7 linked regions of the Homo sapiens genome follow. The protein of the gene in region 5 interacts with the protein of the main gene of each other region in a pairwise test. Each region holds a gene or a part of one and is shown on either strand. Other genes may lie near its edges.

Region 1 (4,639 bases), on a different chromosome or scaffold from region 5:
CTGTAAACCCAGCACTTTGGGAGCCTGAGGTGGGCGGATCACTTGAGGTCAGGAATTTGAGACCAGCTTGGTCAACATGGTGAAACCCTGTCTCTACTAAAAATACAAAAATTAGCCAGGTGTCGTGGCGGGCACCTGTAATCCTAGCTACTCAGGAGGCTGAGGCAAGAGAATTACTTGAACCCAGGAGGTGGAGGTTGCCGTGAGCCAAGATTGTGCCACACACTCCAGCCTGGGCAACAGAGCGAGACCCTGTCTCAAAAAAACAAAAAAAAACATACACAAGAGTCTGATATTCCCAGCCACCCAGGGCAAGTAAGCATATACCCAGGGTATGAACAGACACAAAAACCTACACAATCAAGGGATACTGACAACAGACAACACCCTGCGGTAGACCATGAGGACCCCAATAGGCATAGTGCTATCCTATGACACACAGAGGACACACACACACACACACACACACACACACACACGCAGATAAACTCCAACATGTGCACGATCTCCAGTCATTGAATTGACACCTCATCTGTCCTTTTTCCTCCTCCCCAGCTTAGCCAAAGATTATTCGGCCATTAGGCTTGCAGAGCCTCAGAGGTAGAGGTCTGTGTGTATGTCTGAGAAGTGGGGGTGGGGAGATGGCCTTGGTCACTGCAGAGCCACCTCCCCCTGCTGCTCTGGCCCCACTGCTGCGGGGGCTGCTATCTGTGAGCAAACTGTCCTTGGGGTCAGGGACAGCAAAGAGCCAAAGGTCAGGTCGATGCCTCCCCCAACTCCTCCCCCAGAGGCAGCCAGCTCTTAGGGGCAGGAAGCAGAAGGGACAGAGGAGCAGAAATTCAGGTGTTCAAGCCCCACAGGGCCCACTGGCCAAGGAAAAGAGACATTCAGTAAGAGGCGGACACGGTACCTTTAATGATTAAACACAGCCAGTACCCCGCTTCCCGGGAAAGAATCAGACTTCAGTAGAAATTCCCCACACCCTAACCAGCCTTTTCTGGTTTCTCCTGGACCAGAGTTGGGGGAAAGGGTGGGCTTCAGAGAAAACCAAGGAGTATTCTCACCTCCATCCCCTACCCAACCCATGCCAGAGAGAATGGTGACGACATGGCCAACACGGGGCTGCAGCAGCCATCATGGCACATGGTGGCCCACTGACGTTGTCACCTACCCAGTATGATGTCCATCAAAGCACCCAATGGGCCAAAAAAGGTGTTACACAGAATGGTGGCCAACTTGGCACCTACTGTGCCAAGTACACCAAAAAAGAAGTGGGCACAGCACCTAATGGGGGGGGCCAAAGAAGATGTCACTGAAATGCTATCACCATCACACCCAAAGGGCCAACCGAGATGGTGGCCATCAAACCATGCAGTGGATTAGCCAATAACATCCATCAATGTAGCAGTCCTCACAGTACCCAGTGGGCCACCAAAATGTATCCATGGTGGTTATCACAGTACCCCGTGGATCAACACCATGCCCACTGAGACAGCAGTCATCACAGTAAGTAATAGACCCACCCAGATGTTAACCAATGGGACAAGTGAAGTGTCACCAGAAGGATCAGGCCCCAAGAGCTTCGTGGTGTGAGCTCCAGCCATACCCACCACCATGTTCCCAACCCCTGCTAGGATGCATTAAGCAAAGAGCGGGAATAGAGGCCCTGGTAGTAGACTCCAGGCTCCCCACCTTCAGCCCCGTAGCCCCCAAACCCCACGTCCAGTTTGGGAGGTGCTGGTGTCTGTTCTGACATTAGGTTGTTGATGGAGAAAGGGTGGTTGAAGTTGTAGGGCGCGTCCAGCTTCAGCTCCCCTGGGAGCTCCAGGCCAGTGAAATAGGGTGTGGAGGAAGCGGGTGAGCCACAGTCCAGAGCCCCCACATCTTCCCCGCCCTGGGCCTCAGGCTCAGGGGCTGGAGGCGGGGGCTGGGGCGGGGAGGTGACTGTGGCCGCGGGGGTGGTGGTCGAGGCAGCAGACCCTGTCCCGTTCCTGGTGGTGGTGGCAGCCCCGCTGCCCCCTTTTTTCACCTTCTCCTCCAGCTTGAAGCGTTTCTGGCGGCGCAGGTAGCAGCCATTCTCAAACATGTTCCCTGAGCTGGGGTGTAGGGCCCAGTAGGAGCCCTTGCCAGGCTTGTCTGGGGAACGCGCCACCTTGACGAAGCAGTCGTTGAAAGACAGCGAGTGGCGAATGGAGTTCTGCCAGCGCTGCTGATTCTCCCGGTAGTAAGGGAAGAGGTCCATGATCCACTGGTAGATTTCACTCAAGGTCAGCATCTTGCCCGGCGCCTGCTGGATGGCCATGGTGATGAGTGAGATATAGGAATACGGTGGCTTGGCGTGTGCCAGGGGCCGCCGATACCCCTTCGGCATCTCCTTCCCGTGCACCAGCCCAGGACCCGGGGCCCCGTACCCGGAGCTGCTGCTGCCACCGCTGACACCCAGGCCTGGGAAAGTGGGCCCCAGGGGGGCTGCAGGTGCTGGGGGTGCCAGGGGTCCTGAGGGCAGTGGGGAGGCAGGGAGCCCCCCAGGGGGATAGGGAGAGCTTAGAGGATTCAGGGTCATGTAGGAGTTGAGGGGGGCCATGGTGGGCACTGGGGTCACCGGCGAGTAGACCTAGGGGAAAGATGAAAGGAGGGGTCAGTGGGGCTCCACTCTGCTGGTCAGCAAAGGATCCCAGGACCCACTGAGTGTCCGTCTGTCTGTCCATCTTGCCTTCTCTACAAATCCCTTCCATCATTACCTCTATCTGTAGAAAGCAGTCTCTCAAGGTCTCTCCTCACTCCCTGGACACGCCCTTTCTGCCCCCTGCTTTCCCACCCACCATGCTCCCATACACTCAACATCATCCTTTAAGTGATTCTCCAGGGTTCGGGACTCCCAGGGCAGTCTCTGAAACCCTTTGAGGATGTCCACGAAGTCAAAACTATTTTCAAAATAATGCTATTTTTTTTTTCGAGGCAGAGTCTTGCTCTGTCGCCCAGGCTGGAGTGCAGTGGCGTGATCTCACCTCAATGCAACCTCCGCCTCCTGGGCTCAACCAATTCTCCTGCATCAGCCTCCAGAGCAGCTGGGATTACAGGTGTGTGCCACCACGCCAGCTTTTTTTTTTTTTTTTTTGTATTTTTAGTAGAGACAGGGTTTCTCCATGTTGGCCGGGCTGGTCTTGAACTCCTGACCTCGTGATCTGCCCGCCTCGGCCTCCCAAAGTGCTGAGATTACAGGCATGAGCCACCACACCCGCAATCCTAAGTTATTATTAGCCCTTTTCACTCTCTTTCTCATGAAGTGTACAGTGGAGTTTTCCAGGGGGTGTTGATATTCCAACAGAGAGAATGAAGAAGCAACCAGGAGAATCCAGCTGTCTTCCACTGGGCCAGACTTGATTTGCAAAAATGGAAAAAAACAGTGTCGCTCTTTTGACTAAATTTTTTGAAATTTGGTTTTTTTAATAAAAATCTTTTACACTAACAAATGATTGCTATTTTTAAATGAATACATGTTTGTAATATTTCTCAGTTTTAATTGTAAATACTGTAAACGTAGATAGACATAACCCACATCAACAGAAACTGTTTGGACTCCTAAATAATTTTTTTTTTCTACAGGGTCTCACTCTGTCACTCAGGCTGAAGTGCAGTGGTGCAATCGCAGCTCACTGTAGCCTCAAACTCTGGGGCTCAAGTGATCCTCCTGCCTCAGCCTCCCAAGTAGCTGGGATTATAGGCATGCACCGCACACCCAGCTAATTTTTTTGTATTTTTAGTAGAGACGGGGATTCACCATGTTGCCCAGGCTGTTTTCAAACTCCTGGCCTCGAGTAATCCTCCTGCCTCAGCCTCCCAAAGTAATCCCAGAACTTTGGGAGCCAAGGAGGGTGAATCACTTGAGGTCAGAAGTTCAAGACCAGCCTGGCAACGTGGCAAAACCCTGTTATCTACCAAAAATACAAAAATCAGCCGGCATCGTGGCACAGGACTGTAATCCCAGCTACTCGGGAGGTTGAGGCAGGAGGATCGCTTGAGCCCAGGAGTCTGAGGCTGCGGTGAGCTGAGATCATGCCACTGCACACTCCAGCCAGGACAACAGAGCAAGACTCCATCTCAAAAAAAAAAAAAAAAGAAGGGGGGTGGTCCTGAGACCAAAACATTTAATAACTGCTGGTTTATTAGGTAAATCAGCAGTTCTCAATTTTAGTAATCATAAAGAGTTATTATAGGCCGGGCACGGTGGCTCACACCTGTAATCCCAGCACTTTGGGAGGCCGAGGCAGGTGGATCACAAGGTCAGGAGATCGAGACCATCTTGGCTAACACGGTGAAACCCTGTCTCTACTAAAAATACAAAAACAAAATTAGCCGGGTGTGGTGGCGAACGCCTGTAGTCCCAGCTACTTGGGAGGCTGAGGCAGGAGAATGGCGTGAACCCGGAAGGTGGAGCTTGCAGTGAGCTGAGATCATGCCACTGCACTCCAGCCTGGGCGACAGTGAGATTCTGTCTCAAAAAAAAAAAAAAAAAGTTATTATAACTCTGTAATAATCTAACATATCTAACATATATGTGTAGCTCTCTTCAATCTTTTAGCTTATAAAATTACTGCATTTAGGCTGGGCACAGTGGCTCACACCTGTAATCCCAGCA
Region 2 (4,653 bases), on a different chromosome or scaffold from region 5:
CCCAGGCTCAGGTGATCCTCCTACCCGAGCCTCCTGAGTAGCAGGGACCACAGGCACACACCACCATGTCCAAGTAATGAGGTCTCGCTATATTGGCCAGACTGGTCTCGAACTCCTGGGGTCAAGTGATCCTCCCACCTCAGCCTCCCAAAGTGCTGGGATTACAGATGTGAGCCACTGCACTCAGCCTGAAAAGTCTTCACAAAGAATAAAGTTGGGAAGAATTTGGTGAGCAGTTCTCAAAACATACCACAAAGCAGCAATCATCAAACAATGTGTTATGGGAACAAGGACTCACAAAGCAGTCAATGAAATGTGAGACCCCAGAACACACTGTTCTTTTTTTTTTTTTTCCAAGACAGAGTCTCGCTTTGTCACCCAGGCTGAAGTGCAGTGGCACAATCCTGGCTCACTGCAACCTCCGCCTCCCAGGTTCAAACGATTATCCTGCCTCAGCCTCCCCAGTAGCTGGGGTTACAGGCGCTCGCCACCACGCCCGGCTAATTTTTGTGGTTTTTCTTTTTTCTTCTTTTTTGAGGCGGAGTCTCAGTCTGTCACCCAGGTTGGAGTGTGGTGGCGTGATCTTGGCTCACTGCAACCTCCGCCTCCCGGGTTCAAGCAATTCTCCTGCCTCAGCCTCCCAAGTAGCTGGGATTACAGGTGCCCACCGCCACACCAGGCTAATTTTTTGTATTTTTAGTAGAGACGGGGTTTCACCATGTTGTCCAGGCTGGTCTCAAATTCCTGACCTCGTGATCCGCCTGACTCGGCCTCCCAAAGTGCTGGGATTACAGGCGTGAGCCACCACACCCACCCAGATTGTTCTACTTCTAGACCTCGCTACAATGCTGACAGTTCCATGATAGAGTGAATAAAGATACGTTAGGCTGGGCGCGGTGGCTCACACCTGGAATCCCAGCACTTTGGGAGGCCGAGGTGGGTGGATCACCTGAGCTCAGGAGTTCACCATCACCCTGGGCAACATGACGGAAATACTGTCTCTACTAAAAATACAAAAATTAGCTGGGCGTGGTGGCGCACACCTGTAATCCCAGCTACTCAGAAGGCTGAGACAGGAGAATTGCTTGAGCCAGGGAGCTGAAGGCTGCAGCATGCGGAGATCACGCCACTGTACCCCAGCCTGGGCAATAGAGCAAGATTCTGTCTCAAAAAAACAAAAAAGGAGGGGAGGCCAGGTGCGGTGGCTCACGCCTGTAATCCCAGCACTTTGGGAGGCCGAGGTGGGCGGATCACCTGAGGTCGGGAGTTTGAGACTAGCCCGGCTAACATGGTGAAACCCCGTCTCTACTAAAAAATACAATTAGCCAAGTGTGGTGGCGGGTGCCTGTAGTCCCAGCTACTCGGGAGGCTGAGGCAGGAGAATGGCATGAACCTGGGAGGCGGAGCTTGCAGTGAGCGGAGATCGCGCCACTGGACTCCAGCCTGGGCAACAGAGCGAGACTCCGTCTCAAAAAAAAGAAAAAGGTATTTTAGATACTAACTTCATGGGACCAGCCAATGTGCACATCTACAAAAGTGCAACCCTGGAGATCTTCAGTTCTCCCTTCAAGCCCCATGAGAGAATCAGATGTTTAATTCCCACAGATCATTCAATGCACAATCACTGCGTGCCTACTGTGTGCCAGGCTCCAGCGCGCTGAGATGGACGGGTGCCCATCCAGGACCGGGGAACAGCCCAGAAGCCGCGTGCAACCCCTGGCCTCCTCCCCAGCACAAACGCCGACCCCTGCGCGACGGTCCAGACACTGGGGCCACCACCAAGGCCTGCTCCCAGCCTCCTCTCTGCCATGTCTCAGCTCACCCTGCACCCCCGCCAGGGACCAGGCCCAAGCCCAGGCCACTTGCTCTCCTCACAGCTGGCAAGGCCCGGCCCCTCTCTGCTCATCGGTGAACTCCAGACTTTATCCCAGCACCCCCAGTTCGTCCCGACATCCCCCCACCTTTTTTTTTTTTTTGAGACGGAGTCTCGCCCTGTCACCCAGGCTGGAGTGCAGTGGCGCAATCTTGGCTCACTGCAATTTCTGCCTTCCGGATTCAAGCCATCCTCCTGCCTCAGACTCTGAGTAGCTGGGATTACAGGTGCGTGCCACCGCGCCCAGCTTATTTGTGTATTTTTAGTAGAGACGGGGTTTTGCCACGATGGCCAGGCTGGTCTCAAACCCCTGACCTCAGATGTCTGCCCATCTCGGCCTCCCGAAGTGCTGGGATGATAGGCGTGAGCCACTGCGCCCGGCCTCAGCTGCTGTTTTCTTTCTCTCTGCTGTGTGGCCTGTGGCTGTCAGCAACCCATCGGGTCCGTTTGTTCCCACAGCCCCAGGACAGATGTGTCTGAGTGACCTTGTTTCAATCATGGAAACTGAGGCACAGAGCACTTGGGACACACTGCTCTGCGGACCTCTCAGCCCCAGGTCCCGCCAACACATCCAAGCCAGTACTTGTCCCTCCTGAGCCTGTCCTGGCTTGTGATGCTCCAGCCAGAAGTCTGGGGACCCCCACCACAGCCCCCCACGCCCTCACCTGCCAAGCTGCCTCCTCTCCTGGCCACAGGAACTCGCTTCCTCCAAAGAGGACCTGCATCCTCTACCCCTCATTTCTGCCGTCCCCACCGAGCCCGCTGCTGTCTCCTGCCTGGAGTCTGCAGCTGCTACTCCCCAGCCTCGCTCCTGGGCCCATCCACGGCGCGTTCCACCCTCAATGCGGATCTGGTCACACTGGGCCACAGGGCCTCCCTCACTCCTCCTGCTCCGGCCTTGCCATGGCTCCCACCTGCCCAGCCCCTCTGGGCTCTGGGCCTTCCATCCCTGAGCCTGGGGCACTGCACTCTCCATCAACATCACTTGCTCAGGGGGTCGTTCTGGACCAGGTCAGTGCCCCCTCTCCATTTTCAACCCTCCTGAAATGCTAAGGAAACACAGATGACCTTTCAACAAGGCAGGCTTCAACTGCACAGGTCCACTCATATGTGAATTTTTTCAATAAAGGCTGCCCCAACGGTGCCGGCCTCTCCTGCCTCCCCTTCCACCTCTGCCACCCCGGAGACAGACCCACCCTCCTGCTCCTGCTCCTCAGCCCTCAATATGAACACAAGGACACAGGCCTTCATCGTGGCCACCTCCACTGTGTGAACAGCAAACAGGATTTCTCCTTTTATTTTTTTTCCTTTTTTTTTTGAGACAGAGTCTTGCTCTGTCGCCCAGGCTGGAGTGCAGTAGCGCAACCTCGGCTCACTGCAACCTCCGCCTCCCGGGTTCAAGTGATTCTCCTGCCTCAGCCTCCCAAGTAGCTGGGACTACAGTTGTGCACCACCACACCCGGCTAATTTTTTGTATTTTTAGTAGAGACGGTGTTTCACCACGTTGGCCAGGATGGTCTCAAACTCCTGACCTCATGATTCGCCCGCCTCGGCCTCCCAAAGTGCTGGGATTACAGGCGTGAGCCACCGCGCCCAGCCTGTCCTTTATTTTTTTTGAGATGGTGTGTCACTGTGTCGCCTGGGCTGGAGTGCAATGGCGCAATCTCGGTTCCCTGCAACCTCCACCTCCTGGGTTCACGAGATTCTCCTGCCTCAGCCTCCTGAGTAGCTGGGATTACAGGTGTGCGCCACCACGCCCGGCTAATTTTTGTATTTTTGTAGAGACAGGGTTTCACCGTGTTGACCAGGCTGGTCTCGATCTCCCGACCTCGTGATCTGCCCGCCTCGGCCTCCCAAAGTGCTGGGATTCCAGGCGTGCGCCCCCGCACCCGGCCCCTTAGACTTTTCTGAATGTATTTTCTGTTCTCCAGCCTGTTATTGTGAGAACAGGAGGCTGGTGTGCATTGACCAAGTGTCCTCACAAGGCCTCCGGTCAGCGAGAAGCCATTCCTAGTTAAGTTCGTGGGAGTCAAAAGTTGTACTTGGATTTGAGCTGAGTGGGGGTCCACGCCCCTAACCCCGCATGTCGAGGGTCCGCTGTCCCAGGCCCGCCCACCTTACCTTGCTGCTATCTCCCGCTGGGCCTCATTGCCCTCTCCTGAGCCCCCCGGGGGCAGACCCCTCACCTACTTTTCTCCAAGGGGTCCTTGTCCTGCCTCCATCTTCCCCACTTTGCAACCGAGCCAGCGGTCCCTCAAGTGCAATCGCATACATGTCCCAAGGTCAGCCGGTGCCCGGGGCGCCCCACCTCCCCCCTCAAACAGAAAGCCTGGGATTCTCCAGCTGCACCTGCTGCTGGGTGAGTTCCAGCTGCATCCAACCTACCCCCTCCCCAAAGAGCACAAAGACCACCCAGGTGGAGGGAGCAAACCCACCGCCCCTCACTCCAAGCTAGGAGAGGCCCAGCAGCTAAGGACGACAGAGACAGGGACGGCGACACGGACGGCACAAGCCGTAGGAGGCCCCGGAACCCTCCAGGGGCAGGAACCTCTGCTAAGTACCGCCCAGGGCAGGACCCCACGAAAGGAGACCCAGCTGCCCATAAACACCCAGGAAGAAGCCAGAACACGTTAACAAAAGCACCCGAAGGTCAGAAGGGAGGGCAGGACCCTCCCCCTCCAGTGCCCGCAGCAAGAAAACCCAGCCCCTGCCCCCGACCAATGAGGGGCAGGGTAAGAGGGACCGGGGAGTGGAGGGAACCTGGGGCCTGGGGCCGGTAC
Region 3 (4,653 bases), on a different chromosome or scaffold from region 5:
AAAAAAGGAAAACTCAGGGGATGCAGAACCCCAGCTAACTCAGCCACATTCTCTTGCTTTGCTTTCCTTAACTCCATTTCACATCACCTCAAGCAAAGGAGATTCTACGAGGATAGGTATATAAAGAAAACACATATCCTCCAACCTCATTATCCAAGACTGTTTCAGATGATCCTGGACCCTACCTGTTTGACCCTAACTGCTGCTTTCAAGATGCACCTCACGGTTTGCATAGATTTAGGTAAAGCCAGATTCTACATGGCAAGGGCTTATTAAGAAAGTAAAATGGCCAGACACGGTGGCTCATGCCTATAATCCCAATGCTTTGGGAGGCCGAGGCGGGCGGATCACCTGAGGTCGGGAGTTCGAGACCAGCCTGACCAACATGGAGAAACCCCGTCTCTACTAAAAATACAAAAAATTAGCTGGGCATGGTGGCGCATGCCTGTAATCCCAGCTACTCCGGGGGCTGAGGCAGGAGAATAGCTTGAACCCGGGAGGTGGAGGTTGCGGCAAGGCCGAGACTGCACCACTACACTCCAGCCTGGGCAACAAGAGCAAAACTCTGTCTCAAAAAAAAAAAAAAAAAGAAAGTAAACTGGCACTCAGCAAGAAGGCTGTCTTCATTTCTTCACTTATTACCACACTGGCAAGGAAACAGTTTCATAATGCTTACAGAAATGCTCACTGATAAGACAGTAAACTGCTCATTTCCAAAACACATAACAACTGACCACATCATGATTAGTGATTTTAGTTGCCAAAATCAACTCGTTTCTCGTCTTCCAGTTACCTAAGGGTATGAAGACAGATATGTCAAGTGAGAGACTGGCTCTTATCTCTAGACCCAGGCAAAAGGCAGCTAAAGGTTGAAGGTACCATCAGGCCTGGGACCCAGAGATAAAATTCAGAGTATTATTTTTGAAATGTTTTGTGGACAACTTGCCAGGATATACATGGGAAAAACTCGAGGGTAGAACAGGAGTGATAAGATGATCCACTTTAGATTTTGGAAAACAAAAAATATCAAGTTCCTGGGAGAAGGAACTATGGGTGAAGTTTTAAATCTCAGAGTGGTGGTTCTCAATCCTGGCTGCACACCAGAATCACTTGCACAGACTTTTTAAATTATGAATGCCCAGGACCCACGGGTTCAATCTAGGCTTAAAGAATCAGAAAAAGGCCAGGCACAGTGGCTTATGCCTGTAACCCCAGCACTTTGGGAGGCTAAGGTGGGAGGATCATTTGAAGCCAGGAATTTGAGACCAGCCTGGGCAACATGGTGAGACCCCCATCTCTACAAAAAAAAAAAAGATAATAAATTCCTAGGAAGGGGCCCCACACACCCCTATTTTTTTTTTTTTTAAGTTCCTCATGAGGTCAGGAGTTTGAGACCAGCCTGGCCAACATGGCGAAACCCATCTCTACTAAAAATACAAAAATTAGGCCGGTGTGGTGGTGGACACCTGCAATCCAGCTACTCAGGAGGCTGAGGCAGAAGAATTGCTTAAACCGGGAAGGCAGAGGTTAAAGTGAGCTGAGATCGCGCCACTGAACTCCAGCCTGGGTGACAGAGCAAGACTGTCTTGAGGGAAAAAAAAAAGTTCCTGAGGAGATTCTGATGCACAGCCACCACTGAGAACAACTGCCAAGAACTACTGTCAAGACACATTCCAAAATGGACAAGACCACTAAACTCAGGCTCCAGAGTCGACAAATAAATGACTTAAAAACTTAACCCAGCTTCTCAGTTGTTCCACATTTCCCTAATGGAAAGGTCTCCACCAAGTAGCAGTAGGTATATCTCAGCCTCCCCCCATTACCAAATTAAGGGCCACAAGTTTTTCACAGTTAAATTACTTGGCATCTTCATTTCTAGCTCTAGTTCTAACAGGTGGCTCGGCCTAGAGGTCAGAATACCAGTCAGCAAGTTTCTGCTGCTGATTCATGCTGTAATCACAAGCAAGTTGCTTACCCATCATCCAGAGTAGTTGACAAGCACCTCCAGAGGGGCAACATATGGCCTTACTACAGAATCAACTGACAACAAATTGAATCCAGCTGAAATTAGTAATTCTGAATGAAAGGAAGAGAGAGGTGGTATCAGGAATGATGCACATGCCAGTAAGTTATCTGCTTGCTAAGTGTGATTATACAAAGCTTATTGAAAAATACCGCCTAGGACTTCATAAAAATTTACTTGGACAAATCACTCTTAACACTGCTAAGCCTCTATTTTCTTTTCTGTGAAACAGGACTAATATTCTACCATACTTCCTCATAGAATCATGAGGATTAAGAAAGAAAACTTCTGTAAAATGCCTACCATAGTGGCTGACACACAGTTTTACTATGATTTGAAAGCCTATCATTAATAAATCCAAAGCGTTCCTGTCAAGAGCACCCACTAGACTTCCAATGAAGCCATATAAACCAAGGAATCCAGCCAACGGGCCCTGAAATTCTTTTAATTTCTCTAAGTGGTTTTACTGAAGGCTTCAAATCACCTCAATTTTCAAAGCCATTAAAATCTCCAGGTCCATTTACAGCTCAGAGGCATTCTTCAAGGCAGATTACCACTAGTAACCTGGTTTCTGGTACCAGAATAACAGGAAGAATGCCAGGGCAGTGCTTCATACCACCAACCTCAAAATAACTGCCTCATAATACCTGACCTTCCCTTAACCTCCCTGGCAGTTCTATCGGCCCAGGGGGATGGGACAAGAGCCTGGTTCCTGGCCAGAGTCCACTGCCTGCCCATAAACGGCCTACCTTCTCTCTTGCCTCTCTTTCTTTGCTCCCTCTAAATGACTTTCCCCACTTTCTAACCCACCTTCTCTCCTCTGAGCTATATTCACAGGATATTTACTGCTGCATGTTCTCAGAAATACCTATTAACACTACTGGAATGAAGCTGTAGGAATATAATCAAGAAAAGGAATGTTATATAAATGTTCAGGCAATTAGCCCAGGCAAAGAAACTGTGGTATGCGACTCTAGCCGGAAAGATCAAGAAAATCCTGGTAGCCAAATTTACATATTTCCTGTGTACAAATGAAGGGCAAATTTAAGCCAGCCACTGGAACAAAATCTCAAAGAAATTAATCATGTAGCTAGGAAGCAAATGGCCATTAATGACAGTTTACAGAATAGAAACCAAAGGGCTTTCTTCCACGAGGTAGAAAAGGGGGAGAAAAAAAGTGACTTAAATATTTGAATACTGAAAACTCTTGCTCTTTTCACCTTGACAAAAGATAAACTATCTTTTCACCTTACGCTTGTTTTCCCCTCAACTCAGTACTCTGTAATTCAAGAGGTCCTTTCAATGATTCCCAGCAGAATCAAGTATATGAAGTGTTCAGCTTATGAGATACTGCAGAAATCTTTTTATGGGATTATGCGGAGCTTGAGTGTACCCTTTTGTTAGAGCAACCATCTCATCGTGAAGTCACTGCATCAGAGCTCCTGAGTATCTGCTGTAGTAGCACTGGTCTTAGCTGTTACGTTCCTAAGGCAGCTTAGTTTCAACTTTAAAAATCAGCCAATATCCAGTTTCCTAACCTTTTAATCTCCACATATCCTGCCTTTTAATTTGTTCCTAAATGCAAGCAGTGGATTATGGCTAGTGAAGAAGCATGGATTTGGCTACAAAGCCCATCCTTCCTTGCTAAACGAACACGCACAGCAGAAGCCAGAAAAGCAGACACTGGCGGTGGCAAACATGGTCAAGCTTTCTAACACACACATTAAACAAAAAAAAAAGAATGCTGCCTCAAGGCACATATGTGTTATTTGTAAAATCTAACAAAGGGCCTTTACATGAGTTTTTGTTTTTTTAGACGGGCTGGAGTGCAATGGTGCAATCTTGGCTTACTGCAACCTCCGCCTCCCGGTTTCAAGGGATTCTCCTGCCTCAGCCCCCCGAGTAGCTGGGATTACAGGTGCGCACCACCACGCCGGACTAATTTTTTGTACTTTTAGTAGAGACGGGGCTTCACCATGTTGGCCAGGCTGGTCTCAAACTCCTGAACTCAGATGATCCACCTGCCTCGGCCTCCCAAAGTGCTGGGATTACAGGCGTGAGCCACCGCACCCGGCCTACATGAGTTTTTACAGAAGTTTTCTTGTTTTGAGACGGGGTCTCACTCTGCCACCCAGGCTAGAGTGCAGTGGAGTGATCGTGGCTCACTGCAACCTCGAACTTCTGGGTTTAAGTGCTCTTCCTCCTCCCCTGCCTCAGCCTCTTCACAGCTGGGACTACAGGTGCGTGCCACCACGCCCGGCTCATTTATTTTTTTGTAGGACAGGGTCTCGAACTCCTGGGCTCAAGTAATCGGCCTGCCTCAGCCTCCCAAAGTGCTGGGATTATAGCCACCCAGCCCATTTGAAATGTTAACAATGACAAATACTTGCTTTGGTCAAACTACTATAGAATTCTGTATCATCTTGTTGGGTAATCAGAGTTAATTCCACTAACCAACATATTCAAAGTGAAGGACATAGCAGTAAAATTCCTTAAATACCTGTTTGTTTGTTTTATTTTAAGTTGTCACAAGCTTTCACCTACTGCTAAGAAATAAACTTAAGGCATTTATTGCAACTGACTAATGAATGTATGTTAGTGGCTTAAAGAGGAGCCCCAGAAAAATTAGT
Region 4 (4,653 bases), on a different chromosome or scaffold from region 5:
GATACTCAGCAGAAACAGGGTGCCACAGTCCCATAAATGGGAAAAATAGCCGGTGTTTTTCATGTTAAAGAGGTTTCCTTAACTGTCGGGCTTCTTGGAGTCACTAATTCTGACTCTCTCATGAGGGAGACTGTACAGGCAGCATTTTCCACACATATTTGACTACTATTTTTGGTGAAATGTCCCCACTGACACCAGAATAACGTTCCATATTATAAATGCTGAGAAAGGTTAGCATTCAATACTGCACAAGGCAGCTTGCCTTTTGACAGTGATCCAAACTGTATTACCACATTAAATTGTTATCAAGAGAAAGGATAATAAAAAAGTAAATCTTTCCTTATACTGAAGTTATCATAATGTAATCTATATCTAAAAGAGTTGGCCAGGCGCGATGGCTCACGCCTGTAATCCCAGCACTTTGGGAGGCCGAGGCGGGTAGATCACGAGGTCAGGAGATCGAGACCACGGTGAAACCCCGTCTCTACTAAAAATACAAAATATTAGCTGGGCGCAGTGGTGGGCGCCTGTAGTCCCAGCTACTGGGGAGGCTGAGGCAGGAGAATGGCGTGAACCCGGGAGGCGGAGCTTGCAGTGAGCCAAGATCGCGCCACTGCACTCCAGCCTAAGCAACAGAGCGAGACTCCACCTCAAAAAAAAAAAAAAAAAAAAAAGGGTTAACATGTTTTGTTCCTTTCCCATGATTTAGATGTGCGTACGCCCTAAACAAGCAATCTGTGGTAACTCTGAGAGATTCTTCAGTCACTAAGAAATTCTTACTGCCCAATAGCTGAGTCTACATCAAAGATAAATACAGACAGTACTGTAACCTACACACATCATTTAATCGTTACAGCAGATTTCTAACTGCTCTAAAACCTCCACTCTGATCAATTTATATCACACAAATACCTTCTCAGTTAATCTCCAACCAAGAAATTGTAGCTGTGAATGCAAATTTGTCTGTATTAAGTTCTAGCACTGACTTTTTTTTTTTTTGCGGGGGGGAGGGGTGGAGACAGGGTTTTGCTCTGCTGCACAGGCTGCAGTGCTATGATGTGAACGGGGCTTACTGCAGCCTTGCCCTCCTGAGCTCAAGGGATTCTTCTACCTCAGCCTCCTGAGTAGCTGGGACTGCAGTCTCATCACACTCCCAGCTAATTTTTTACTGTTTTGCAGAGATACGGTCTCACTATGTTGCCCAGGCTGGTCTCCACACTACTCAAGCAATCCTCCCGCCGCCTCAGCCTCTCAAAGTGCTGGGATTACAGTCATGAGCCACCGTGCCCAGCCCCACTGACATCTTTTGAAATTTAAAAAACTCCTGTGTGGGAGAATGAAAATCTGGAACTTGACGTGAAGTTCATAACAGTAACAGCATTCCTCAGTAAAATGATTGTTCCAGATTATGGACATAACACAGTGAAGTATTTTAATCTCCTTCTCAGAAAAACATAAAAATGGGCAGCTTTAATCTGCTAATTACATCTCATACAAAATTCATGTCACTCTTCAACAGTAAAAGTAACTCAAACAAAATGATTTCACCTAGGTTTTACTGGCTTCTGTAAGAAAGGATCTTGTTTTGTTTTTTTTTGTTTTTTTTTTTGAGACAGGGTCTTGCTCTGTTGCCCAGGCTAGAAAGCAGTGGTGCAATCATGCTTCACTACAGCCTCGACCTCCCAGACTCAAGTGATGCTCCTGCCTCAGCCTCCTGAATAGCTGGGACTACAGGTGTGTGCCACCAGGCCCAGCTAATTTGTAAAAATTTTTTGTAAAGATGGGGGTCTCACTACGTTGCCCAGGCTGGTCTTGAACTCCTGAGCTCAAGCAATCCTTCTGTCTCCGCCTCCCAAAGTGCTGGGATTACACTGTGCCCAGCCTAAAAAAGGTGTCTTAATACACACAATACATCAAATGAAAAGGAAAGGCTTTGCTAGTGTTCAACAGGTTTTGACTCACTTGTTTCCCTGATCTCATCTAAAAGTTGAGTCTGTCTTTTTTTGAGCAATGCTATAAGCCACAATATACTGGTGTGACCATAATACATTTTCTGGAAAACCAAGCAGGTTAGATGACTACTTCTATTATTGTTGATTAGAGAGCCTGAAGCTCAAATTTTTGGAAAAGGAAGTTAGCAGGAGCAATACATCTCTGATCTTCAGGGCTTTTTTTTTTTTCTGAGACGGAGACTCGCTCTGTTGCCCAGGCTGGAGTGCAGTGGTGTGATCTCGGCTGACTGCAACCTCCACCTCCTGGGTTCAAGCAATTCTCCCGTCTCAGCCTCCCAAGTAGCTGGGATTAGAGGTGCACACCACCGAGCCCAGCTAATTTTTGTATTTTTAGTAGAGACAGGGTTTCATCATGTTGGTCAGGCTGGTCTCGAACTCCTGACCTCAGGTCACCACCCGCCTCAGCCTCCCAAAGTGCTAGAATTGCAGGCGTGAGCCACCATGCCTGGCCTAAAGGCCATTTTTAAAAAGTACCTCTCTAGAGTCTGGTCGATCCTGTCCCAAGGTAAAATTTCCTGTTTCCAAGAATCTTAAGGTTTACTTGTCTCCACCAAGCAGTCAATTCTGCAGGGTCACCACAGTCTCATTTATGATTGAAGATTAAAAAGCAAGCATGAATTCAAAAGACAAAAAAATACTAAGCAGATGGTCCAGTTAGAGAACAAGCAGCACAGGAAAATAAGAAAAGAACTCATGAATGCATAAACCAGGACACAAGAGCAAATTAAGGCAGACACAAGCAAGAAGTGGGTGAACCTAACTGACCAAAAGTGGGTCACATGTTTACCAAATTAAGTTTCCTACTCTTCTAGATTCCAAGCCTTCCTTAAAGTGTACAAAGCGTATTTATTTCACCATAATGCCAAGATCATTCCCCCACTGTAAACATTGGCAAGACCCAAACGTAAGGCTCCTTACCTCCTGGTCTGTAGACCACATCATCTTCAGTGATGTAGGATGTTATCTCACCGGTATCTGTCCTTTCATAACGAGACTTTTTTTTCGGTGGTTTCTTCTTATTCTTCTTCGTGGACTCCTCTGCGGTGGCACTATTGTTGTCATTGTCCTCGTCTTCACTGTGATCACTCTCAGCATAATTTTTGGCTCCTCCTTCCAAGGTACAGCTCCGGCGTGGCCTTGAATTCTCACTCTCTCTTGCTTTGTCTCTTTTCTCTCTCTCTCGGTCCCGGTCTCGGTCCCGGTCCTTCTCTTTGTCTTTGTCTTTGTCTTTGTCCGCTGTCATGATTCGCCACGTGCCTTCTTCTGTCCTCTCACGGCTAGGCCTCCGTGAAAGGTAGACAGTAAGCCTGGGCTTCAGTCTTCTGAATTTCTCACTCAATTCCAGGGAAAATCCAACCACTCCAACAACCCCAACGTTTCAAAAATGCTAGGAGAGAAAAAAGAATGGTTTTAACGCTTTTTCATATTTGTTTCCTAAAATAATGTTTTGTTAAATGAATCTCTTACTTATTCATGCTTTACACCTAAAAACTTCGCACAAGCCACAGGAGAAAAATTAAGTGTTAAAATTTAAAAACTACAGTTTTTGGTCTCAGCAAATGGTTTGGGGTTTTTTATGACACCAATAATAAAAACTGTCTGAATGCCTAAGAGTAAACTACACTTCCTCCACCTTACATGTTTTCTCCTTTTTAAAGAAAAAGCAAACCAATACCCTGGTAGACAACATATAATGGGTATTATTATACAAAAGGAGCTTCATAACTCATAATATTAATTTAAAGAGGAAAGAATCTGTAGTAAAAATTATTTCCAGGCCAGGCACTGCGGCTCATGCCTTGTAATCCCAGCATTTTGAGAGGCCAAGCCAGAAGGACCACTTGAAGCCAGGAGTTCAAGACCAACCCTGGCAACAAAGCGAGATCCCATCTCCAACATAAAATAAAATATTTCTACCTGAAAAAATAGTAATAGTTTGCAGCACTGTCAAAAATGTCTCAGGATAGGCCGGGCGCGGTGGCTCACGCCTGTAATCCCAGCGCTTTGGGAGGCCGAGGAAGATGGATCACGGGGTCAGGAGATCAAGATCATCCTTGCTAATGTGGTAAAACCCTGTCTCTACTAAAAAATACAACAAAAATTAGCTGGGTGTGGTGGCGGGCGCCTGTAGTCCCGGCTACTCAGGAGTCTGAGGCAGGAGAATGGCGTGAACCCAGGAGACGGAGCTTGTAGTGAGCCGAGATTGTGCCACTGCACTTCAGCCTGGGCGACAGAGCGAGAGACTCCGTCTCAAAAAAAAAAAAAAAAGAAGAAGAAAAGAAAAAAAAGTCTCAGGATATCGCATAGAGCACTATATTCTAAAGATATTTTCTGGCTACTTCTACAAACTCCCAGAACTTCCTTCAAGAATAAAAATAATATTTAACTCAAACGAAAGTGAGAGCTTCAGAGCAAGATTTTTCCACCTTCAGTTACATTTTACACATCTTTTCATCCTACCATTTTCAGTTATGTTCCAAGGAAAATGATCTCTCTAAAGATGTATTACTGGCCAGGCGTGGTGGCTCACACCTGTAATCACAGCACTTTGGGAGGCCAAGGCAGGGGGATCACGTGAGGTCAGAAGTTCGAGACCAGCCTGGCCAACGTGGTGAAACTCTGTCTCTACTAAACACACAAA
Region 5 (3,836 bases):
AGACAGAGGGGTTCAAATGTTTCCAGTTTCCTAAAGGTTTTGACACTTGGTTCATCTGCGTTAGATCACTTGCCCTGTGGACCTCCCCACAGTCTGGACTTGGCTGATTACTTCCCCCCATTCTTGCTATTTCCCCACTTTTCACATTGCGTCTTCCCTTCCTAAGTGTATCAGGCGGAATAATGAGTGAGCCTGTCTTGCTCCTTGTAGATCTTCTCCCTGGGGTACTGCCCCACCGGGGAGTGGCTGGCAGTGGGCATGGAGAGCAGCAATGTGGAGGTGCTGCACGTGAACAAGCCTGACAAGTACCAGCTGCACCTGCATGAGAGCTGCGTGCTGTCCCTGAAATTTGCTTACTGTGGTGAGTTCAGCCGAAAGGAAACTGGAGGCCGTTGATGGCCCAAATGGAAAATGCTTCTTAAAAAAATATGGTAGAGATCATAATCTGGAAAAAATGTTCTCCGAGCAGCTGGATGCAATAATTCTATTGTTTTAATATGCCCTTCAGAGCACAGCAATGTCTGTTTCAGTCTGTTTTGCTAATTTGAGAAAAGTCAGCAGGCAATGTGATTGCCTAATACACGGTTTGGACACAAGTTTGTTTTGGAGGGGTTGGGAGACGACAATGAGTTTCTACTCTGAAGAGGGGTGGGCGGGAATTTATTGAAGAATGGAGCAGGGGCAGTGGAAGTCATTATGAGCTGGCCATGATGAGGAATCCAGGGTTAGAGAAGTCGATATTTAGGTATACGCAGACACTTAGTTACACTCTACTCTACAGTGAGGATGAAGAGGGAAGAAGTTCATGTGGTGACCCTTCTTGTGTGCTGCAGATGGGCAGATATCTGTTCACAGTATGCATAGATGGATGGATGGATGGATGGATGGATGGATGGATGGGTGGATGAGTGCCTATCACTTATTGAGCATTTTTCTTCATGCTATATGATGTGACTGGCATTTTACTTAAGTTGGATGTTTAATCCTTTAATTCCCATTAAAGATGGGAATCTTTAATCCCATTTTATCATGAGGAGACTGACTAAAATAGAACACATTCTTCATTGATTTCTATATTTGAGGGTTACCGTGTGTTGGATATGATGCTACTAGTCCTGTATCCAGTGACTAAGGAGGCTGATACCTCTTAGATTATACCCAAGATCACTGATAAATCACTGAGGAGCCCAGATTAAAACCTCTGTTCATATCATGGACCAGTCCTTAGGGCATGATAGTTCATATATTAAAAATGTTCTTAGTTTGATTAAGTCCAAGTTGCTAATTGTATAGTAGGAATTTTAACCTTGTGAAAACTAGATATTCCTTTGCTAATTCTAGGTAAATGGTTTGTGAGTACTGGAAAAGATAACCTCCTCAATGCTTGGCGGACCCCCTATGGAGCCAGCATATTCCAGGTGAGTAAGTACTCCTCACCTAGATCCACAGTTTGACCACAGTGTCGCCTCTGAAGCCAGGAGTGAAGGTGCCTCCGAGGGAGCAGGGCCTCTGAGTACCGTTGTTCCACATTAAACACATGTCCATTGTTTTCTCTTCCAGTCCAAAGAGTCCTCGTCAGTGCTTAGCTGTGACATCTCTGTGGATGATAAGTACATAGTCACTGGCTCGGGGGACAAGAAGGCTACAGTCTATGAAGTCATCTACTGAAAACATTATGTGGTTTAACGTTTATAGTTGAATTGGGCCAAAATGTTTCGAATTTATAGAAATAGAAAAGTTGTAACTTTAAAAGAGAAAAAAAATTACAAACACCTGTTTCCAAACCTTGACAGAAAACTACTTTGAGTCTACAAAGAGGAGGCGACAAGTCCATCAGCAGAAAGTCACCTGTCTACATAGACCAAATGGAGCACCAAGGCCAAGCGGACAGAGGGGCCATGGGTTGTAGGATTGAGGAACGGAATCTGCCGACTCACATGACAGCCCATTCTTTCTTTCTGGGTGATCTGGGGATCACGCCTTGCCCAAGTGTGAGATTACCTTTCTGTTCCTTGCAGTTCACCTCACTTTCCGTCCTTTGTAGAGCAGTGGTGTCTCCAATGAACTTGTTTCCTGGTTTTGCATCTTGTGAAATGTTTTTTTGTATTTTTGTTGAAGGTTAAACATTTGTATAAATTGTAAATATATTTGGTTTATTACAGTAAAGGCTTTAGTACCAATAAGTGGTTTTCCTTTTCTTTCTTTATTGTTTTTTATTAAAGCTTTGGGATCATCAATGTGGGTTTTATAAGCAAAGATTATACATTTGTAGAGGAAGTTTTGAATTGCACTGCTTATTTTATAAATATATTTGGTGGTAGGCTCCCATTGCATTAGAACCTAATCCTTCACAAGCTTGAGTTACTGGGAGCTCAAGACTAGGAATTGTGAGTAATTGAAGGTTTACTAATGACAGTTTTCTTTAGGAAAGTAAAATTACTTCATCAAGATTTGTTCTTTTGTTATGATACTATTGTGATTCAAGGTCAAAGATTAAAGCTCTACTTTTTTCTGGTGATTCATTGGAAGGCAAAATATTCCTTTTTCTAGGAAGGCCCAATCTCCTCTTCCTTTTCCCTTTCTCTTTCCCTTTCTCTCTTTCTTTCGTTCTCTCTCTCTCTCTCCTTTTTTTTTTTTTTTTTTTTTGTTTAAAGATTTGAGTTCACATTGTTTGTTACCCAGGTTGGAGTGCAATGGCATGATCACATCTCACTGCAGCCTTGAACTCCTGGGCTTAAGCAATCCTCCCACCTCAGCCTCCTGAATAGCCAGGCTAATTTTTTTTTTTTTTTTAATTTTTATTTTTTGTAGAGGCAGACTCTCACTTTGTTGCCCAGGCTGGTCTCGACCTCCTGGCCTCAAGTGATCCTCCCGCCTTGGTCTCCTAAAGTGCTAGGATTAAAGGCATGACCCACTACATGCTGGCCTCAGTAGTTTCAAATCTGTATTCTCTCTCTTCACAAGCTTCACTTGGGTTTTGTGTTATGATCTATGATACACAGAAAGCTGCAGAGTTCATTAACCTGTAAAAGGTGGAAAGTCAGCTGGTTTTGTCTTCATTAATACTTATTTGGTCTATTATATTAAGTTACTTAAGCCAACCATACCCATCACTTCTCCGCATTCTTCTCATTAAGGCCCTCCCTGCAGCTCTAGCCATTATTATCTATCATTAGTCTTTGGTCTTTATCTTTGTGGACATGCTTTTACTAATGTGATTAGATGAAATCTGTAATCCTGGGCTTTTAATAAGTTACCATCCATGTTTCCTCCTGAAAAAGCTACATGGCTTATTTTTTATATACTATATACTATTATACACCATTATTTTCTATTATTTTATAAAATAATAGCTAATAAATTTAAGGCAGTGTTCCCGGCTGTTTAAAAATAGCACCTAAGGAATTTTTAATGTTCTTGTTCTCTTATGATCCAGCGAGTTGTTGGCAGTTTGTCTTAATATTTTTCATTTGTTACCAAGACCTTGTTCTTTATATATTCAAAAACATTACTTTGTTTGCTTTTTGCCAAAAAAAAATGTTTATATACTGAGTTAAATATTTTCACTTCTCATTAAGTGAATGGCAAACCCCCATTACTAAAGCTGATTATGCTGTCATCCCTTCCTTGTATAACGAAGTAGGTTTCTATCTGACAGACTCAGATGGCTTGTTAATGGAGTAATGGAGTGTTTATCTTTTCTGTTCTCTCTCCCTCCCCGCCTTACTTCCCTATTTTCTCTAATACCAACAATGAAGTAGCTTAAAGACCATTAGAGTTTGTCTCCCTCCTACCTGTGACCCGGAGACCCAGGCCCACAATGCAGCTCTGCACTT
Region 6 (4,423 bases), on a different chromosome or scaffold from region 5:
CGCCTGTAGTCCCAGCTACTCGGGAGGCTGAGGCAGGAGAATGGCGTGAACCCGGGAGGCGGAGCTTGCAGTGAGCCGAGATCGAGCCACTGCACTCCAGCCTGGGCGACAGAGAGCCAGACTGCGTCTCAGAAAAAAAAAAAAAAAAAAGATAAAATATAAATGTACATTTTACAACCTTTTTTATAAGGCTAAGCACCAGGAAATCTATAAAATAGTAGCAATATCTAGCACCATTTATTACCACTGAGGCAGCGGGTTAAGGAATGTATTCGCAGTGTCAGGAAAGCACAGGGTCGCCAGAGTGAATTGCATGTGGAATTCTAGAAGAACTTTGCTTGCCATCCTATGGGATTTGGACTGCAATTTTAATACAACAGGGAATCATTATGGTCTATTTTCTCAAGATTCTGATTAAGTAGCATAAGCGAGTGTGGAGCATCATGAATTCATGCTGGCAAATCATGAGGGCAGACAGGTAAAGAATCTGCCCTCATCTTTGCACTTGGCTTTCTAGGCCCATCCTCTTGGAGCTGTAGTGGGGATCTGGGGACACAGGAAGAGGGAAATGGCCGAGTGCACGGTAAGTGCACCCTTTATGGCGATGAGAACCTGCCACAGAACAGAATGCTGTTGGCTCTGTTGTGCCTGATGAAGAAAAGGAAAGGGTGGTCAGCACAGAACCTGGGGCCAGATTCCATGCAGCACTCTGCAACTACAAAGCAGCTCGACGCTGCCGCTGCCTCGGTGCCTTCTTCATTCACCTCCACAAAACTCTTGTGCACGAACTTGGACAGACACAGGTCTCTCTCCGCTGACATTGCCGACAAGTCAGCCTTGCCCTGTTGGAAGGCATCAACAATTCCCAAATGCCGAAGCACAGATTCCATGTCATAATCCTCTTGTAGTTTAAATTTTGGAAGGAGAACTTCAACCTCAGTACTCTTCATACAGTCTGGCTTGGTCCAGGCTGTGAGTTTCTCAAAAGTGAGACTTTTTTCCACCTGAAAGACCAGAATTAGACTTTAAGATTCCGACTTCAGTGCACATGTACAAGCGCACAGGCACTCACAGTTCCCTTCCTCCCCTTGCACGTAGGTGTTGTTTGTTCACATAGGATCAGTGGCCCCTTCATCTGCCAGAAGCTTGTGAGCACTCTTACTTGTCCTATGTCCCATGTGCCACTTCCTTGACAAGGGGGAGAGACACCAAGCAGTCAGAGGCAGGAAGGCTGTGGCTGTCCTCTCCTTATCCAACAACTCCAGAGACATCTTGTATTGTGACAAGTGTCAATGCCCAGGCGACTGTGTTTTTTTTTCAAACATAGTCTTTTTAAAGACAACAAACCATTGCTAGTAAAGAAAAGGATTGGAAACGAAAGGGCTCTCAGTGTGAGCCACTCCAACAGGATTATCTGTCCCAGGTGAGATTCTGCATAGTTTCCGGAGCAGAGAGGTTACCAGAGGATTATCTGCCCCAGAGAGATTCTGCATAGTTTCCGGAGCATAGTTTCAGGAAGGTGGGCAGAGGGAGAGCCAATGGCTGCTGCGCACACAGACCTCTTAAGTCATGGGGTCCCACTGCCTGCCATTTGCCATGGTTGACTCTCTCACCCTGGAGATCCATGCTGAAAGGAAGCCGAGTGCCTGGATGTGCCCTCAGAGGCTGCCTCTGGTCCCACCCTCTGAGAACTGGACTTCACACCTCCCTGGATGCCCCCTCCCAGCCTTGTTAGGTCAAAGTTAAGACTTCCTCATTCTCTATTTCAGGTTCCTAGACTTTAAAAGCATAATGCTAAGAATGATGATTGTAATAATGGATCACATTTGTAGAGCATTTACTAGTTGCCAGGCAATGTGGTAAGCTTGTTACCTGAATTACCCACATTTTATCCTCATCATAACTCTAGGAGGCAATAACCCCGAGCAGTCATTTATGCTTTTAGAGTTAAAAGTCTGCCATTCATCAAACTAGCAGGATTTTTATAAGCTTCCTCCTACCTGATTTATTTTAAAAGGCATTTTAACCGCCGCCCACTCCTTCTAGCGATGAAAAAACAGAGGACTGAGATGTGTAGTTTGGCAGATCACGCAGACAATATTGGGAAAAGTCAGCCTTGAACAAAAGTTCGATCCCAACGCCAAGTGCCTGCACAGTGTGCGTCTGCCGCATCGCCAACTCAGAAGGTGAATATGAGAGGTGGAAGTGGCACTCGAGTTCTGCCCGCAAAGGTGTCCCTGGGTTCTTCCCGCAGCCCGGGTCTTACCGTGCTGAGCTCCACGCCGTCGTCAGGCAGCAGCACCAGCAGGCTCAGCTCCTTCCTGGCGTAGGGCAGCTCCAGCAGCTGCGCGCGCACCTCGCCCACGTGGGCGAGCTTAAACGTGGCCTCCTGATACATCATCTGCACTGGCCTTTGCTCCTCCTGGGGGAAGGATTATTGAAAGACGCAATTAAAACTTTCAAAAGAGCTGCAGTTGCCTCCAAGAGTGTTTTCAGCACCTGTGATGGAAACCGCCACATTCATGCCCCAGTTAACACTAAAAAAAAAAAAAAAAAAAAAAAAAAAAAAAGTCAACCAGTTCCTTCCTATCTTCATTGCAAGCAGACACAGTACCACCCTGGGAAAGGTTTTCTTCTGCAAAATAAAATGTGATACCCTACATTTTCCAGAGGAGAAAGATGTTTCTCATTTAAATTGTGCTCAGCAAATAGATCTAAGAAAGCAATATAATCAAATGAAATTAAATACAAATTTGTTTTGATTTAATTAGAAAAAAATGTGTATTGTTTTTCCTATTTATCCAACCCAACATATGAGAAAAAAAATCATAAAGTGGGATGAAACTTATAGTTCCACAACAGCATGACAGGGAGTATAAATGGATACACTCTCTCAGAAAGAGTAACGACCTACATATGTAGTAATGTATTTTAACCCAATCTTTTCAATTCTGATACTCTAATGAAATAACTTTTTTAAAATACAGAAGAGGCATAAGCACATAGAAGCTCAGCAAAGTATTACATTTATTAACGTAATACTTTAAAAAATTGATACAGATCATTTATTATAAAAATTAAAATAGTTCTAAAACCAGGGTTAGAATTCTCCTCCTCCCACCCTTTGCAACTAGAGAACTAATTTTTTTAAGTTAAAGTACACCTTACAAAAAATGCAGGAGGGTTACCTGCTTTTGTTTTTTAATTACATTAAAATAGTATCTTTTTAGGGGCTGGAAGATTTGGCAAATTATTCTAATGCCTGCCTTAATTAAGTTTTACTTCAATGTCAAAACTAAGGTCTTTGTCATGAAGTTTTAATATTAAAAAGCTGTAAATACTGAATTAATGATAATTAGTTAACAATTCAAATCAAAACTTACTTTAATTTTAAAAATAACTAATTAAAGACACATGTTTTCACCTTCTCTCCCTCTACCCTGCCCTATACTGCCTCTCACTCCCACATATCACACTACCTTAACACTTTTTTTTTTTTTTTTTTGCTTTCTAGCCAAGTAAATTGGGCTTATAGGAAGATCTTTAGTTTCCAAAACTAGGTGGCAGCAATGGTTTATGAGAAATTATCAAAGGCAGTTAAGAGCAGTGATAAAACACTACATATATATATATATATTATATATACGTATATATAATATATATATGCAGCAAATATCTTTTACTCCTTCCGTTTTTTTCTACTGAGTTAAGAAATTCATTCAGAAATACTTTAAGTTTCAAATTCCTTTTGGCTTACGCTTATGTCACTTACACTTTTACAAAGTTAAATCTTTCCATTCAACTTCTTCATCAAACTAGCAGGATTTTAAAAAGCTTCCCCCACCTGGTTTATTTTAAAGGGCATTTCCCTTGTGTATGTTTCGTCAAACGGTTCATTCCACTTTCCTTTGAAGTAGATGGCATTGACAAGAACCAGCCTGGTTTCTGCATCAATTGAGCTACCCGGCAACAACTCTTCAATTTTACCTTTCAAGAAAAGTAGAGACTACATTCAGTTGCTTTTTATAAGAACCTGATGCATTGGATGATCCTGGATCATTAGTTGAGAAGCAAACTTCTGTTTTCAACTTTGCTGAGTTTGGGTTGTTATGTAGAGAAATAAAAACAGCACATATGAGTGGTATTCATGATTACTGACACCTTGAGAACATCCACCAAGTTGAGGATGGTGAAAGATACCTAAGTCACTCGAGGAAAGCAGGTTGGTACAAAGTAGAAAAATTACACCAGGTTGGAGAACAAGACCAGCAGGAAATGTGATAGGCTGAAGGGGTGTTTGTCTCACATGGTTAATTGGAGTGTTTGATCCAACCCTTCATGATCACACCCAGTTCTAACATTCTGTGACTATACATGGACATGTCAGAAGCAACCAGAATGGACGGCTCAAAGCGGGAAGAGC
Region 7 (4,155 bases), on a different chromosome or scaffold from region 5:
AATACAAAAAATTAGCCGGACTTGGTTGCGGGTGCCTAGAGTCCCAGCTACTCAGGAGGCTGAGGCAGGAGAATGGTGTGAACCCGGGAGGCGGAGCTTGTAGTGAGCTGAGATTGCGCCACTGCACTCCAGCCTGGGCAACAGAGTGAGACTCCACCTCAAAAAAAAAAAAAAGACTGATAGGAAGTCCATCAAAATGGTTACAATCTGTATAGTTTATATCTGGACAGTAAGATTATTAGTAACTTCTATTTTTTTCCTAGTAATATTCTGTTTTTCATATTTTCTATCTTGAATACACATTATAATCAGGAAAAAATCCTTTATGGTTGAAAAAAGTGGGAAAAGAGAAAGACATAGGAAATAGGACCATGACAATGGAAGTTTCCCAGCTGAAATTCAAAAGCAGAACAGTTTTTCTAAAGGGCTGTAAGCAATAAGTTTAAAGTGACAAAATTATTTAAATCACTAACATTGTACACTGCAAGCCTTTTCTGTTTCTTACCAAAAACATAGTTAATAACTCACTATTATCATTGATGATAGGAAAATAAAGAAATTATGGCAAATATAGCAAGTCATCAAAATTGTGTCCAACTATTACAGATCAAAGAAAGAAGAATAAAAGTGGTAGAAATGTATCTAAGTATTCTCATAATATTCTAAATATGCTTCTGTCCCAAGAGTAACCTCCCCTCCTCACCAATCCTTGCTGACAGCAGAAATGAGTGCTATTACAACCTTACAGAATGGCTTAAGGTACAAATATGGATGATTCTAGCTTGCTCTCTGGCACCACCTACTGATCAAACAGCATTTCAATGTAAAACAACACAATCTGAATTTTCCTCTTCTCAATACAACCTATGCTTTGGAAAAAATCTAGGTACTCTCTCAGTCCACTCATCTGGATTCTGCACAGATATTAACATCTCAAAAATGGTATTCTAGAAAATTCTGTCTTGTTAGTAGGAACTTTGATCATTTTTGTGTCTAAACAGAAATGCCAGGATTGTCAGTCTGAAGTTTCAAAATGAAAACAACAGTGGGATGGATCACTTTATCACTTTAGGTACCACATCTATTTAATGTGACTGTGGAGGAGGTAAGATGATTGTGTGACGTTTATGAAAGGACTAAAAACCTTTGCTGCTTCAGTTTGTTTTTGATTAATGACTCACGCCCCATCATTCCCAAATCCCACCTTGGCTCTAAAGAATCATTAACATTCAGTATATTTTAATCAGATATCAATTTATTATGGAACCATTCATTTTCTGCTCATTAGCACTAAACATTTTTTTTTGGGTCAAGTATCCATGTCATATTATGTAGAAAATGGTCCTTCATGCCAACAGACTTACATGTATAAAACATGAACACCCCCAAACTCTGGGGAGTATTCCAGAATGGGGCAAAAGAGAGGCTGGGAAGTACCATTTACTACACAAATGTAATAAGATGGACAGAAACCTTTATTAGAGTTGGAAAATCAAGTTGGAAACAAACACATGAATTCACTACTTAATGCATTTAATTCCAACCCCTCATTGGAATCATCTTGGTAACATTTAAGATTCTACAACAGTTATAATGCGACGATTCAGAGGTGGTCTCAAAGTTGTTACAGTGTTAAAAAAATTATAGTAAGCAGTATAAAATTACAATTTATTATGGGGCCAGGGGGATTCACAACCATCCTTAAAAACATTAAGAGCAAACCACGGCCAGGCATGGTGGCTCACACCTGTAATCCCAGCACTTTGGGAGGCTGAGGTGGGCAGATCACTTGAGGTCAGGAGTTCAACATGATGAAACCCCGTCTCTACTAAATATACAAAAATTAGCCAGTCATGATGTCGTACACCTGTGGTCCCAGCTACTCGGAGGGCTGAGGCATGAGAATCGCTTGAACCTGGGAGGCGGACGTTGCAGTGAGCCAAGATAGCGCCACTGCACTCCAGCCTGGGAAACAGAGCGAGACTCCGTCTCAAAAACAAAACAAAACAAAGAAAACATTAAGAGCAAACCTTTTAGAGAATTCTACTTAAGATTTCTTTTTCTCAATTCCTTTCCCCCACTCCTTTTGTTTTTTTAAGCACTAATCTGGAATGGAGTCGGCGGGACAGAGCAAAGCTGGATGGGCTGCCCCTTGAATGATGGAGTAGGTCTGCTTGGGTAGTTCTTGCTGGGAAGAGGAGGAGAAGACCGGTGGCGCTGTGGTGGCCACTGCGATGTTCTGGCCTCCATCGCTCACCACTGTCACTTCTGCTGTCCCCTCCTGAATCAAGGCGTTTAGGCCTTCAAAGTCAGTGCAAGTAATACCCGAACTGGTAATGAAAGTTTGATTGCCAGAGCCTTCCTGGGGGCCACCTGAGGCCGTGGGGATGAGAGTCTGGTGCAGAGTGGCTCCGTCCGTCTGCTCGTGGGTGGTCAGCAGGACAGCCGGCTGGGTCATTGCGCCCGCCTCGCTCGGACACCGCGAGGACTGAGGGGGGGCGATCAGACTGACCTGGCGCAGGATCTGCAGCCGGCTGTTCCCTGGGAGTTCCTCTGGGTTCTGGGCCACCAAGGCAGGCGGGACGATGTTCACTGCAGCGGCGGCAGCCTGGACGATGGTGTTCGCCTGGGGCACCTGATGCCCAACGATGATTTTGACTCTTCCCTCGCTGAACTGGGGCACTTGGCTGGGCTGGAGGGGCACCTGGAGGTGTCCCACAGTGAGGGGCGTGGCGGGCTGCTTGCTGGGGTCGATCTGAAACTGGAGAACGGTCACGTCCGAGTTCTTACTCTCACTGTACTCACTGTGCTGTCTCTTGTGGCTGCGGAGCGAGTCCTCCCGCATGAAGGAGGCATCGCATATATCGCAGTGGAAACTCTTCTTGGCATCCAGCTTGGCCACCTGCCGGCTGCTCTGCCTGCCGGTGTCCTTCCTCTCTAGAGCCTCAGTCTTAACCATGTCCCCATGGAACTTCTTCATGTGCTTGCTCAGGTTGCTGGGCTGTTTGGTGTCGAAGCTGCAGTAGTTGCACTTGAAAGGGCGGTCGGTGCAGTGGATACGCTCGTGGATGCGCAGGGCGGCCTTGCTGGAGCAGGAGTAGCTGCATTCCGAGCACTTCTCAGGATGCTCCGACTGGTGCACGCGGCTGTGCTTCCGGAGGGTGGCTTTGCTGTCACCCAGGAAGTCGCAATGAGGACACTTGAAGTTATTCCCGCTGTGCTTGATACGGATGTGCGACTTGAGGTTCCCCTTCATGGTGCAGCGGACATTGCAGAACTCGCACTTGAAAGGCTTCTCCCCCGAGTGCACCCGCATGTGCCTTTTCAAGTCCGAGCTGATTTTGAACTTGGCGCTACAGAGCCAGCACTGGAAGGGGGCGTCCCCTGTCAACACAAGGTGAGTTTCGATAAGAACAGGCAGGCAACAACCACAGCGGATCCCCCCGAAGCACACACCAGAAAATCGCTTATACAAGGTGGGTGGGTGCAGACCTCCTAACTGCAGCTTCTAGCAGCCCCTGGCAGTGGGGGAAGAGGGGCAGGGCGTCTTTATCTTTCCCCGGAACCCAAACCACCACCACCGGTATCAAACCCAGAAGAAAAATGGGAGATCGAAAAGAGCAATTTAATTGTCCCAGATAAAATAAGATTTACAAGTATACTTGTTATATTCTTTAAAACACTCAAACTATCTTTCATACAGTTAATTTGCCCACTCTGCTAGTTAATGGTTCACAGTTGAAGACTTTTGCACAACCCGTTGATTTTGATTGAGTTACATGTTGTAACAGATTCAACAATATATTTTCGAATGGGTCAGCTCCGTGCTGCACTCATTGGAGTATGGTTTTACAATGACTGAAACACCCAGCTTATATTTCATGCAGATCTTTATTAATAAAGATGTGTTTCTTGCACAAAATTTATTTATCCCATATTGCCAGCTGCGTTCTTTACTTGTGAAGTTACAAAATCCAGCTGCTTGATTTTTTTTAAAAAAAATTCATATTCGCTGAAAGATGAGCAAGGCAAGTGAAATTGCAAACATCTGATTGGATACCATATTCCAAATTTACTTCCTCAATGAATGCCAAGTCCAAATTATCTGAGGCAATGACAATTCAAGCAAATTGGCGACCCCTCATCTCAACATTG

Evidence for each region.
Region 1: the proteins of TLE1 (region 5) and FOXA3 interact in a two-hybrid assay, tested with the Homo sapiens proteins (one large-scale study listed by BioGRID and IntAct).
Region 2: the proteins of TLE1 (region 5) and BTBD2 interact in a two-hybrid assay, tested with the Homo sapiens proteins (one large-scale study listed by BioGRID and IntAct).
Region 3: the proteins of TLE1 (region 5) and RNF10 interact in a two-hybrid assay, tested with the Homo sapiens proteins (one large-scale study listed by BioGRID and IntAct).
Region 4: the proteins of TLE1 (region 5) and RERE interact in a two-hybrid assay, tested with the Homo sapiens proteins (one large-scale study listed by IntAct).
Region 6: the proteins of TLE1 (region 5) and SERPINB9 interact in a two-hybrid assay, tested with the Homo sapiens proteins (one large-scale study listed by BioGRID and IntAct).
Region 7: the proteins of TLE1 (region 5) and ZFP64 interact in a two-hybrid assay, tested with the Homo sapiens proteins (one large-scale study listed by BioGRID and IntAct).

What each region holds. Positions count from the first base shown.
Region 1 is NC_000019.10:45,870,050-45,874,688, reverse strand, and holds the end of FOXA3 (hepatocyte nuclear factor 3-gamma), read right to left. Parts: intron 2,615-4,639; coding exon 1,631-2,614; 3' UTR 892-1,630; downstream 1-891. UniProt on the Homo sapiens protein: Transcription factor that is thought to act as a 'pioneer' factor opening the compacted chromatin for other proteins through interactions with nucleosomal core histones and thereby replacing linker histones at target enhancer and/or promoter sites.
Region 2 is NC_000019.10:2,008,682-2,013,334, forward strand, and holds part of BTBD2 (BTB/POZ domain-containing protein 2), read right to left. Parts: intron 1-4,653.
Region 3 is NC_000012.12:120,536,791-120,541,443, reverse strand, and holds part of RNF10 (E3 ubiquitin-protein ligase RNF10), read right to left. Parts: intron 1-4,653. UniProt on the Homo sapiens protein: E3 ubiquitin-protein ligase that catalyzes monoubiquitination of 40S ribosomal proteins RPS2/us5 and RPS3/us3 in response to ribosome stalling.
Region 4 is NC_000001.11:8,653,043-8,657,695, forward strand, and holds part of RERE (arginine-glutamic acid dipeptide repeats protein), read right to left. Parts: intron 3,400-4,653; 5' UTR 3,256-3,399; coding exon 2,931-3,255; intron 1-2,930. UniProt on the Homo sapiens protein: Plays a role as a transcriptional repressor during development. May play a role in the control of cell survival. Overexpression of RERE recruits BAX to the nucleus particularly to POD and triggers caspase-3 activation, leading to cell death.
Region 5 is NC_000009.12:81,582,030-81,585,865, reverse strand, and holds the end of TLE1 (transducin-like enhancer protein 1), read left to right. Parts: intron 1-210; coding exon 211-361; intron 362-1,341; coding exon 1,342-1,418; intron 1,419-1,560; coding exon 1,561-1,668; 3' UTR 1,669-2,183; downstream 2,184-3,836. UniProt on the Homo sapiens protein: Transcriptional corepressor that binds to a number of transcription factors. Inhibits NF-kappa-B-regulated gene expression. Inhibits the transcriptional activation mediated by FOXA2, and by CTNNB1 and TCF family members in Wnt signaling.
Region 6 is NC_000006.12:2,889,567-2,893,989, forward strand, and holds part of SERPINB9 (serpin B9), read right to left. Parts: intron 3,988-4,423; coding exon 3,845-3,987; intron 2,423-3,844; coding exon 2,267-2,422; intron 1,005-2,266; coding exon 597-1,004; 3' UTR 1-596. UniProt on the Homo sapiens protein: Granzyme B inhibitor.
Region 7 is NC_000020.11:52,150,045-52,154,199, forward strand, and holds the end of ZFP64 (zinc finger protein 64), read right to left. Parts: intron 3,385-4,155; coding exon 2,102-3,384; 3' UTR 1,234-2,101; downstream 1-1,233. UniProt on the Homo sapiens protein: May be involved in the regulation of mesenchymal cell differentiation through transactivation of NOTCH1 target genes.